Linked DNA regions of Homo sapiens: regions 2, 3 and 4 are each linked to region 1. The links come from fine-mapping of genetic effects on gene expression. A gene starts in region 1. Each other region holds a variant in brackets. All regions are shown on one strand. Distances are from middle to middle.

Evidence for each region.
Region 2: its variant is fine-mapped to the expression of DENND1A in monocytes (Fairfax 2014, PIP 0.95). The same link has a PIP of 0.9 or more in monocytes after interferon gamma.
Region 3: its variant is fine-mapped to the expression of DENND1A in whole blood (INTERVAL, PIP above 0.99).
Region 4: its variant is fine-mapped to the expression of DENND1A in whole blood (INTERVAL, PIP above 0.99).

What each region holds. Positions count from the first base shown.
Region 1 is chr9:123,928,641-123,931,329 of GRCh38, reverse strand. DENND1A (DENN domain containing 1A) reads left to right here and starts at 1,204. Exons shown (of 24, transcript NM_001352964.2): 1 at 1,204-1,441. The coding sequence starts at 1,425. RefSeq lists a silencer at 978-1,467 and enhancers at 1,818-2,017, 1,647-2,332, 2,268-2,347.
Region 2 is chr9:123,401,217-123,403,905 of GRCh38, reverse strand. DENND1A (DENN domain containing 1A) reads left to right here. Exons shown (of 24, transcript NM_001352964.2): 21 at 416-504. It overlaps MIR601 (microRNA 601), which reads left to right and starts at 1,303; the gene lies at 1,303-1,381. RefSeq lists an enhancer at 679-1,300. The variant TGC/C (reference allele first, on the strand shown) is at 1,662.
Region 3 is chr9:123,726,326-123,729,014 of GRCh38, reverse strand. The region is part of intron 5 of DENND1A (DENN domain containing 1A); the gene reads left to right. Among named protein-coding and RNA genes, the nearest start is that of DENND1A, 200 kb to the left of the region's middle. The variant TC/C (reference allele first, on the strand shown) is at 1,300.
Region 4 is chr9:123,874,637-123,877,325 of GRCh38, reverse strand. The region is part of intron 2 of DENND1A (DENN domain containing 1A); the gene reads left to right. Among named protein-coding and RNA genes, the nearest start is that of DENND1A, 54 kb to the left of the region's middle. The variant G/A (reference allele first, on the strand shown) is at 1,471.

The DNA of each region.
Region 1 (2,689 bases):
GGGTAGGGTGGGGAGGCACTCCATGCATTTATAAGAACTAAAATGGCAGAAGTGATGAATGGCATTTCGGGACAGAAAATTGGAAAAAAAAAAAAAAAAAGGAAAAAAAGCCTAATATTAAAAATGTCTTTGGACTTGTGGCCAAAGGTGCCACCTTAAAGCATGACTATGTCACAGGTGTCTGGAATGATTCAGTCTGGACACTAATCTTGGCTTCTTCACTCGTTGCTAGTTATGTGACCTTGGGAATGTGGCTCAGTTTCCTCTTTGTAAATTAGGGAGATGAACACAGGATTATTGTGAGGATTGGCACTAATGATGTACGGAAATACTGTGTCTGATGCAGAAAGGGCACTCACCCGCTCATTAAAGGGTGGCTAATGGTAGCTGTGATTATTGCTTCCTTTATGATCCCTCTGGCCCTAGAGGGGATGAAATTGAGGTGTTCATGGAAGTGAATCCCAAGGGGGAGCAGGGGTAGGTAGCAGGCTGGTGATCTCGGCTCTCAAATCCTTTCATTTGCATTGAGTTAATCTCTATCAGGGACTGTTGTGTTAACAGGAGGCTTCGATGTTGGAGTTCCCAAAACGGCTGATAAAGGGAGGCAGAGGTCCTCAGCGGGAGGGCAGAGCTGAGCCACCACGTGGGTCCACGAAGCCCCCAGGTGGCTTTCCTGTAGGTATGTGGGGTCTCCTTCAAGCTCTAAGGGGAAAGGAAGAGGAAAGGCCTTCAGATGGGGAAGTGGACGGTGTGATGGAGAAGAGGTTCTGCACGGAACTTACTGGAAGGTGCGGGATGTTAAAGGGAAAACGTGTTTTCATGGAGGCCTGGGCGGGGGATTAGCTCTCCGTTAGAGAGGCTGGGTGGGAGGCCTCCAATGGGAGGATTGGTGGCGGTTTCATCGGGAGGGCTTGGGGTCTCCATGAGAGGATTAGGGTCTCTTCAGGGCGGCTGTGAGTGGAGGTTTCCAGCGGGGCGCAGTGGGGTGCAGATGTGTAAGGGCCTGCAACGGAACGCCAGAGTCCTCCGGGGCCCGCGCCCTGGGAGACGTGCGGGTGACCGCGCTCCCGCCCCGCCCCCACCGGCCACGGCCCCGCCCCCGCGAGCGGACTACACTTCCCAGCAGCCCCAGCGGGCAGCGGCGGCGGCAGCGCGGGCGGGAGGGGCGGTGGTGAGAGGCGGAGGGGGCGGCGCGCGCCGGGCACGCGCGCCGGCGACCATGGCGTTCGCCGGGCTGGAGCGAGTACATTAACCCCTGGAGGCGGCGGCGGCGGCGAGGGAGCGAGCCTCGAGCGGGCGGGCCCCAGCCTGAGGGAAGGGAGGAAGGGGCGGGGAGAGCGCCAGAGGGAGGCCGGTCGGCCGCGGGCGGGCGGGCAGCGCAGCGCCGAGCGGGGCCCGCGGGCCCATGAGGAGGCCTGGGGACCATGGGCTCCAGGATCAAGTGAGTGCGGCCGGGCCGGGCGGAGCCGGGCCGGGCGCGGGGCGGCGAGGCCGGGCCAGGGCTGCAGGCCGCGGGCCGCGCGGGGGACTTGTTGCCGAGACCAGAGGGGCGCCCCGCGTGACGCCGGCACGCGGGGAGGGGGACGGTTGCTATGGCGATCCAGGGAGGCGCGGGGGCGGGGTGCGCGCGGGGTGGCAGGGCGCCGGGGGTCAGGTGTCCCCTCCTCACCTGGGGGTCGGAACAGCTGAGATTACAGGGCGGCCCCCTCCCCGGGTTTACGGAGAGCCCCTGAAAATGGTCCTTCAACTGTGGGGAAGGGGAGTGGGAAAGCCCCGGAAGCACCTCCCCATGTTTGGGCATGTTTGGGGCGCCCCTGAAAGTTGGCAGGTCCGGAGAGGTTGCAGCCTGGCCGCTTGAGGCCTGCGGCCCCCACAGAAGTCGCGTGAGGTTCTTAGAGGGAGGGGCCGCTCATGGTGTGGCCACCTAAGGTGTGGATGGCCGGGGAGGAAGGCCTGTCTCTCTATTTCCCCCCTCTTATCTGTGAAAATCTCCACGCAGCAAGGTCCAAAGGCTGTGAAGGAGGATACCTCTGTGTTGTAACCGAGCACCTGCTCTTGATAATCGTTGGAAAGGCTTTGTAACTCAATCTGGCGAATTCCCTCACTCATTCATTCACCTGGAGTTCCCGGTGGAGGGTTAGCTTTCCGGGGAAATTGTTGATACATGTAACTTCAGAATCCACTGAAACATTGTTGCTGTCCTTGTAGACTTAGAAGTTGACTTTGGAAAGTGCAACTCTTAAGCGGTCCAATTTGGGTGTGTGGCTTTCGACTCTATCTCCCCTCCCAGCCAGGTCCTCTTGTGGCCTCTCCCTTCCTCTGCCCCAGAACTGGAGATGTTTTATCTCTAATTACTAACAAATGTTCACTTTTTCCTCTGTGACTAATAGAATTGTTTAAGGGCATTAAAAAGCAAAGTTGACAGCATAGGCTTTTCTGTAAAACAACTTTCCTAGGACACTTTAAACCCTCTTACAAGAAAGTTTGTGGAATGTGTTTATTTCAGCATTTTGAGAATTGTACTAGGGAAGTTTGAAAGGAGAAGGGCCTTAAGGGTGAAACTAATAATTATTCAAACATTGCATCTCATGTCCAGGTGATGCCCGTGCAGTGTGACCCTTGCCCAGCCTTGCAGTCCCCCGTGTGGTTAGGCTTCTCATTTACAAAATATGTATGAGATGCGCTGCAG
Region 2 (2,689 bases), 530 kb after region 1:
AAGCGCAACCTTTTCTTTCTACAAAACCAGCTTCTGGGCATCAGAGGAAGATGAGAGGGAATTGTCATTGATAAGGGCCTCTTTGTTCCGGGTCCTATGTAGACATCATCTCATTGGACCCTCACCACAGCCCTGCAAGGAGGCCAATGGAACTATCCTCATCTTGCAGATGAAGAAACCGAGCTTTCCAGGAGCACCCTTCTGATTTGAATAGGCCACAGAATTCCAGTTAATGTGTCTGTCTGCTGCCTATTAGATGGTGATGTTTCTGTGATAGGCTGGGCTTTTGTAGCCTGTAGCTTTGAAAATCCCTAAACGTTTTTTGGGGGGGCCGTTTATCCAAATGTTCAGAATGTACCTGTATGGCTTTTCCAACTCACTCCTTCTTGGGGCTCTCCCCCTGTACCTCCTCTAGGTGCGCCCACCTCGTCCACATGTTGTTAAGAGACCAAAGAGCAACATCGCAGTGGAAGGCCGGAGGACGTCTGTGCCGAGCCCTGAGCAGTGAGTATTGTGCCTCTCCCCTCTGTCTGTAAGAACCCTGTGTCTGCGGAGCCAGCACTTTGCGAAGCCCAAGCGTGTAGCCCCGGCCTTTGTGAGGCTTCCCCGGGGCTCCCAGCGGGTGTTTCACAAAGGGGTCATTCAGGGAACAGGACTTGATCTTTTACTCGGTCTGGTTGTCACACCAGTGGGAGGCCCCAGAGGCCAGGGAGCCGGGCACTTGGGCTGGATTTCGAGGGGTGGGGTCCAAAGCATACTTTGCTGGGTTCAGAAGAAGGTCCTAGGCCTCTTGTGCTGAAGATGCCGAGTCAGTAGGTGAGGGTTAGAACCTGGTGAAGGAGGCCAAGTGTTGAACTGGATCCACCCACCTTCCTAGGCCTCCATGGCCGAGAACCTATATACAGGACTGCCCTCATCCACTGCCCCAGACCCACCAGGACCCTTTGCCCACCTGTGCCGGAGGATTTATGTTACTGTGGTTTTTCTTACCCATCTCCCTGAGACGCGGAGCTCCCTGGGTGTTATGCCCAGCACCTCCCGTAGGACTGGCCTAGAGTCACCTGCTCAGGAGGCGTGGGGTAGATGAAGTGAATGAGGGGGGCAGAAAGACAAGCAGTGGACTGAAGTGGACCTGCCTGTGGTGGGGTGAGGCAGAAGGCTGCAGATAGCCCCGAGTCCAGACCAGAGCCATCTGCAGAAGGTAGCACTGCTTCCCTTTGTCCGCAAAAGGAGCACAGCCCTCAGTCTCTATCCAGACAACTCAGCGGCTACACGCTGACTTCCTGTGATGCCTTGAAAAAGTGCATGAGTTCGTCTTGGTCTAGGATTGTTGGAGGAGTCAGAAAAACTACCCCAGGGATCCTGAAGTCCTTTGGGTGGAAAGGGGGAGGCCCCCATGTCTGTCTGGCTCTCAGAAAATGGGAAAGAAGGTAAGGGACATGGCAGGTCCCAGTCAGAGTTGGAGCAAGAAGGAAAAAAAATGATTTCGAGCTGTCAAGCTGGGGCCTAACCCAAGTTGCAGTTCACTTCAGCTCTCCAGGATTTTCTGGTTGATAGCGAGGGTACGGTCTTTAAGGAACCAGCCCACCCAGACAGCCCTCAGACTTTGCCCAGAAAGTTCCAGAATTATATGTGTGCGTGCGTGTGTGTGTGTGTGTGTG[TGC/C]ACGTGTGCGCTTGCACACAAGGATGCTCAGTTATTAGACATTTGGAAGAGAGGACTCCTGAAGCTGGGTTAAGTTTAACTTTTGCTCTGCACAATAGCCTGGTGGGAACATGAGGGATGGATTATGATTGCCCCCTTATGGAGAGAACGCTGCATGGCACCTGAGTGCCTCGGACTAAAGATTCCTCCTTAAGGGGATGAAATTTGTCACATTTCTTTGAAGTCCCCTCTTTAAAACTGGACTAAACCTTTTAGACACTGTACCAGGATACAGGGTCACAGGCCTGTTGATATTGAGATGTAAACCCAGAATATTCTTGCATTACACAGAAACACCATTGCAACACCAGCTACACTCCACATCCTACAGAAAAGCATTACCCATTTTGCGGCCAAGTTCCCGACGAGAGGCTGGACCTCTTCATCACATTGACTTACGCCGTTGCTTTTCCAGACTGGGCAGAGGGGCTGACTTCGCAGTGTGTGCCAAAGAGCCGGTGTCTGATAATCCCATTTTCCTGCTTATCACCTGAACTGTGTCAGTATCACTTTTAGTTTTGTTGGTTGGTTGGTTTGTTGTTTGTTTAATATGCCCTGTTTTCTACTTCTGTTGGAAAATATTTGGGGTTGAAATAAACCAGTGGGAGCATGGGAGCCAGTTTGGTGGTTGGCAAACTACCAGTGATAGAAAACAAATGACAGGTTTTCTGTGAGCGTACGTCACAGTGGCTCGGGCCCACAAGGAGACAGAGGGGTACGTTTCAGGACATCATTCCAAGGGTTTCTGTTCACGTTTGTTTAACGAGGAAGGGGAAGTTGTTCTCCCATAATACCAGTGGTATTTCTAGTGCAACCCGGGTGTTTTTCTACGCCTCTTCCCATGCTGCTTCCCCACCCCCCCACTGTGCTCCGCCCCTTCCAAATGCCATGTCACAACAGCACTTGGATGTGTTTTTCTCAACTGTCATCAGCTCCAGCTGGCAGGACCAACTTCTTGAAACACAGGAAGCATCCAGCGGAAAATAT
Region 3 (2,689 bases), 200 kb after region 1:
ATTTTGTCATTGGTTCTGTTTATGTGATGGATTACGTTTATTGATTTGTGTATGTTGAACCAGCCTTGCATCCCAGGGATGAAGCTGACTTGATCGTGGTGGATAAGCTTTTTAATGTGCTGCTGGATTTGGTTTGCCAGTATTTTATTGAGGATTTTCGCATCGATGTTCATCAGCGATATTGGCCTGAAATTTCCTTTTTTTGTTGTGTCTCTGCCAGGTTTTGGTATCAGGATTATGCTGATGTAGCATCTATGTATCTATCAATACTATACTGTCTTAATCGTGGCATCATAGTAATTCTTCAAATCAGATAGCATTAATCTTCCAGCTGTGTTTTTCATTTTTAAAATAGTCTTAGCTATTCTAGTTTCTTTGCTTTTCCACATAAATTTTGCTCTTCTAGTTTCTTGACCTTTAATAGCTATAGAAAATCCCACTGTGATTTGGTTTGACATTGGATTGAATGTATAAAATGACTTGGGTAAAGATGACTGATGCCTGTTTTTTTTTTTTTTTTTTTTTTTTTTTTTTTGGGAGACAGAGTTTTGCAATTGTTGCCCAGGCAGGAGTGCAATGGCACGATCTCGGCTCACTGTAACCTCTGCCTCCTGGGTTCAAGCAGTTCTCCTGCCTCAGCCTCCTGAGTAGCTGGGATTACAGGCATGTGCCACCACGCCTGGCTAATTTTGTATTTTTAGTAGAGACAGGGTTTCTCCATGTTGGTCAGACTAGTCTCTCACTCCTGACCTCAGGTTGTCTGCCCGCCTTGGCCTCCCAAAGTGCTGGGATTACAGGTGTGAGCCACTGCGCCCAGCTGCAAAGATAACCTTTTTACAATATTTGGGTCTTTCAGTCCATGAACATAGTACATCTCTCCATCTACTTAGGGATTCTTTTTTTTTTTTTGAGACAGAGTCTCACTCTGTTGCCCAGGCTGGAGTGCAGTGGTGCGATCTTGGCTCACTGCAAGCTCCGCCTTCTGGGTTCATGCCATTCTCCTGCCTCAGCCTCCCGAGTAACTGGGACTACAGGAGCCTGCCACAATGCCTGGCTAATATTTTGTATTTTTAGTAGAGATGGGGTTTCACTGTGTTAGCCAGGATGGTCTCGATCTCCTGACCTCATGATCTGCCTGCCTCAGCCTCCCAAAGTGCTGGGATTACAGGCATGAGCCACCACGCCTGGCCTATTTAGGGATTCTTTGATTTCTTTCTTTGGTGTTTTGTGGTTTTTGGCATACAGTTCCTACACCTGTATTGTTAGATTTATACCTAAATATTTATTCCCTTTTTTTTT[TC/C]TTTCCCTTATTGGTGCTAATATGAATGGTACAGCTAATAATTAAATACTAAGTTTTTATTACTTTCATTCTTGGCTTTCTGAAGGTGTTTTCCTATCATTTAAGGTCTTTAGCAAGTAAAAGATTGTTTCTTGATGTTTGTCCTTTGAGTCATCATCTGTTTATGATTTCACAGCCCTTGCACCATTTTGTAATTATGATGTCAAAGCAAGTAGCTTCAAAGGATACATCTGGAGGATCGGAAAAGTGCTGTTCTCTGGATAGGTGGGTTAGATTTGAGACAGAATCCATGTTTCTTTCCTTGAGTGTCATAGGTGTTTTAGAATTTCTTTTGTTTTGCCTATGAGAATATCATTTAATTTCTTTTACTTCAGAAAATCTAGTTTGAAGTATGGATATTAACTTTTAGCTTGATATAAATGAGGCTCTGTAGTAGGCATTCCAGGAAAAGTGGATGTTTTCTGGCTCTTTTCTCTTAGATGACTAAACAAGAAAACATTTTCTGGGAAAAGAAGAGCAGCTGGTACTCTCATTATATTTCCTTCAGTGGTTCTGTACCATCTCCTGTTCATGTTTTATTGTTGTATACCTTACACACTAGCCAAGTAGAGAGAAGGTATTGTGTTGAATACTTTAATGCTGATCATCCCGTTTAGATCTTGTGACAACTGGGTAAATTACACGTGACAACACTGAGCTTCAGAGTCACCTGACCAAGGTTCTATGACTGCCTGGAGGACATGACTTGAACATAAGCCCTCTACCACAGAGTCCCTGGCCTTTCCCACTCAGCCCCATGACAATAAAATTGGAGAAGACTCTTAGAAGGCAAACTTTTTGGGAGGATAGGATACCTTTGCAAGTCTGCTGAAAGCTCCAGGAACTGTCTCCAAAAAAATGTTTATGTGGGTTTCCTTAAAAAGTTCTATAGACATTATAGGTTTTCACAGAACCCCTTCTGTGGTCTCTGGATCATAGGCTAAAAATCCATATTTAAGATCTTTTCTTCACTTGCTGTTTTTTTCACCATTATTAAGAATTACCCAAGTACTGTATACCTCTTCTATGATACCAGGGAGCAAATTTCACACTACCTATTGTGGGTGCTTGTGTGTGAGCAACTGGTAAAAGCCAGAGGCTCCTCCCTCTATTCTCTTCATTCATTTTTTAATGCTCTGTGCTGTGTACTGGGGATTCAGCTGTGAATAAAGCACTATCCCTGTCCTCAAGGACTTCATGGTCTGGTGCATTTCGGAAATGGTCATTTTTGGAATGGCTAAAGTATGTTCGTGTGATAGGGAGAGGCAGCATGGAGTGTGGTGGAAGAATCTGGATTCATAGTCAGGCTTGGATTCAATGTGAGACACGTTATTATTGAATTATCTGAGG
Region 4 (2,689 bases), 54 kb after region 1:
AGTAGAGACGGGGTTTCACTATGTTGGCCAGGCTGTCTCGAACTCTTGACCTCGTTATCCGCCTGCCTCAGCCTCCCAAAGTGTTGGGATTACTTACAGGCGTGAGCCACCGCGCCTGGCCCTTATTTTTTAATTAGTATAAGTTTAGGGGTTACAAGAGCAGTTGTGTTACATGCATATATTGCATAGTGGTGAAGTCTGGGCTTTTAGTGTACCCATCACCTGAATAGTGTACATTGTACCCATTAAGTAATTTCTTATCCCTCAGCCCCTCCCACCCTTCTGAGTCTCCAGTGCCTATTATTCCACACTCTATGACCACGTGTACACATCATTTAGTTCCCACTTATAGGTGAGAACATGCTGTATTTGACTTTCTATTTCACTTAAAAGAATGGCCTCCAGTTCCATCCATGGAACTGCAAAAGACATTATTTCATTCTTTTTTATGGCTGAGTAGTATTCCACATTTTCTTTATCCAATTGCCCATTGGTGGACACTTATATTGATTCTGTATCTTTGCTATTGTAAATAGTGCTTCTATAAAAATATGAATGCAGTTATCTTTTTAATATGATTTATTTTCCTTTGGGTATATACTCGGTAATGGGATTGCTGGATCGAATGAATTGTTTTGAGACTATTTTAAGAGTTACAAGGACAGTCCAGTGCGTATGCTCTTTCCTTAGATTTGTCAATTGTTATTATTTTGCTGCATTTGCTTTATCACCCCCCCAATACATACACAGCACATATGTGTGCATGTGAGTATACACACACAGAATTATTGCTGGATCATTTAAGAGTGAGTTGCAGACATTATGACCCTTCACCCCTGCATATCCAGGAGATATTCTGGATATATCTCCTAAGAATAAAGACATATTCTTATATACCCCTAGTATAATGGTTGAAATCAGAAAATTTAATATTGATATAATGTCAGTTGTCCATATTTAAATTTAATCAATTGTTATATCATGTCCTTTACAGCATTTTCCCTATGACCCAGAATCCAATCCGGAATCATGCAGTCCATTTAGTTTTCATGTCAGTTTACTTCCTTTCAGCCTAGAATAATTTTTACAGCCTTTCTTTGTCTTTTTTGACATGTTTTTGAAGAATTTGGGTCTGTTGTTTTGTAGAAAGTTCCTGGATTTGTATCTGTCTGATTGGATCTTCATGATTAGATGCAGGTTATTGGTTTTTGGTAAAAGTATCTCAAAAGTGTTATGTATTTTTCAGTGCATCCAGTAAGCAGACCATGATATCTGTCCTGTTATTTGTGAAAAAGTACATAAAACATATGTATAGTTTAACAAATAAGTATAAATTGAGTAACCATGTTATTATGATCCAGGTTAAGAAATATAATGTTATCCAGTTCTTCAGAAATACTGGTCCTGGCAAGAGGGACCCCTGCCTTGGCCTGATGCTTTAGAAGGATCTGCTTTGTCCCTCCTCTACCA[G/A]TGCCCTTTCCACAGGGCAAGGAGTCTCTGGGGCCTACGGAACATGGTCACTTGGAGACTAAACCCTTCCATCCTAGACCATGCTTTGAGCACCCAGCATCTCAGAACTTCTTGCCCAAATGGCCTTGAGCTTGTTTCTGGAGCCTGTGTGAGTCTCTCCCCTGGGGTCTGTCCTCCTGGGAGTGGACTATGCTACTGGTGTATACATCCCTAGGTCTAAGGGTGGCCTAAGGATAGCTGTCAGTGGGGAATAGGGTATGGGATAGAGCTTGCAGTACAGGATGGAGAGGGGGCTGTGGGCAGTGAGCCAATGGCCAATTTGCCCTGCACCACTGCTTTTCTCCATGGAATGCAAAATACAAAAACACAATATGAACCTGGCCTTCTAGTCAGTTGTAAAGGTATATTTATTATGGCAGGAGGATAGAAAATATTTAATAGTTTGTATGCTTGTTTTAAAACTTTTAAATATTTAAATATTCAGATGTATGGTCTGTAGGTCTCTATTTGAACCCTTGCCTAAGCCCTGTAAATGTTACAGGTGGGTTTGCCCAGCACCCCAGAGGCCCCTCCCTCCCTGCCTTCAGAGGTAACTACTATCCTGACTTTTATGATAATCATCTCTTTGTTTTTCTTCATAGTTTTGCTACATAAGTATACCTCATTGAAAAAATATAATTGAATTGTGCCGCCTTCTGAATTTTATAGAAATGGAATTATTCTGTATGTAGCTCTGCTGCTTTTTTGCTCAATTATGTTTGAAAGGGTCTTCCGTGTTGTGTGTAACTGCAGTCATAGATTTTCATTGCTGTGTAGTGTACTATAGAATTATTTCAGAATTTAGTTATCCATTCTACTGTTGACCTTTGAAGTTGTTCGCAGTTTTTGGCTACTATAAGCCATGCTACTGTGACCTTTCCTACGTATGAATCCTGGCACATGTAAACATACATTTCCATATAGAACATACTTGATTACTGAATCATGCCATACTTTTACAAAATGGATTGTGCCAGTCTGTACTCCCACCTGCAGTGTTTGGTAGTCTACACTTACTGCTCTACAACTTCATCAGCCCTTGGTACAGTTAGATTTGACTTTTGCCAACCTGATGGTTATATAGTAGTATCTCCTTGTTGTTTTTTATTTGCTTTTTGTTGAAGACTAATGAGATTGAACCCCTTCTTATATGCTTACTGGCTTCTTACTTATTTGTTTG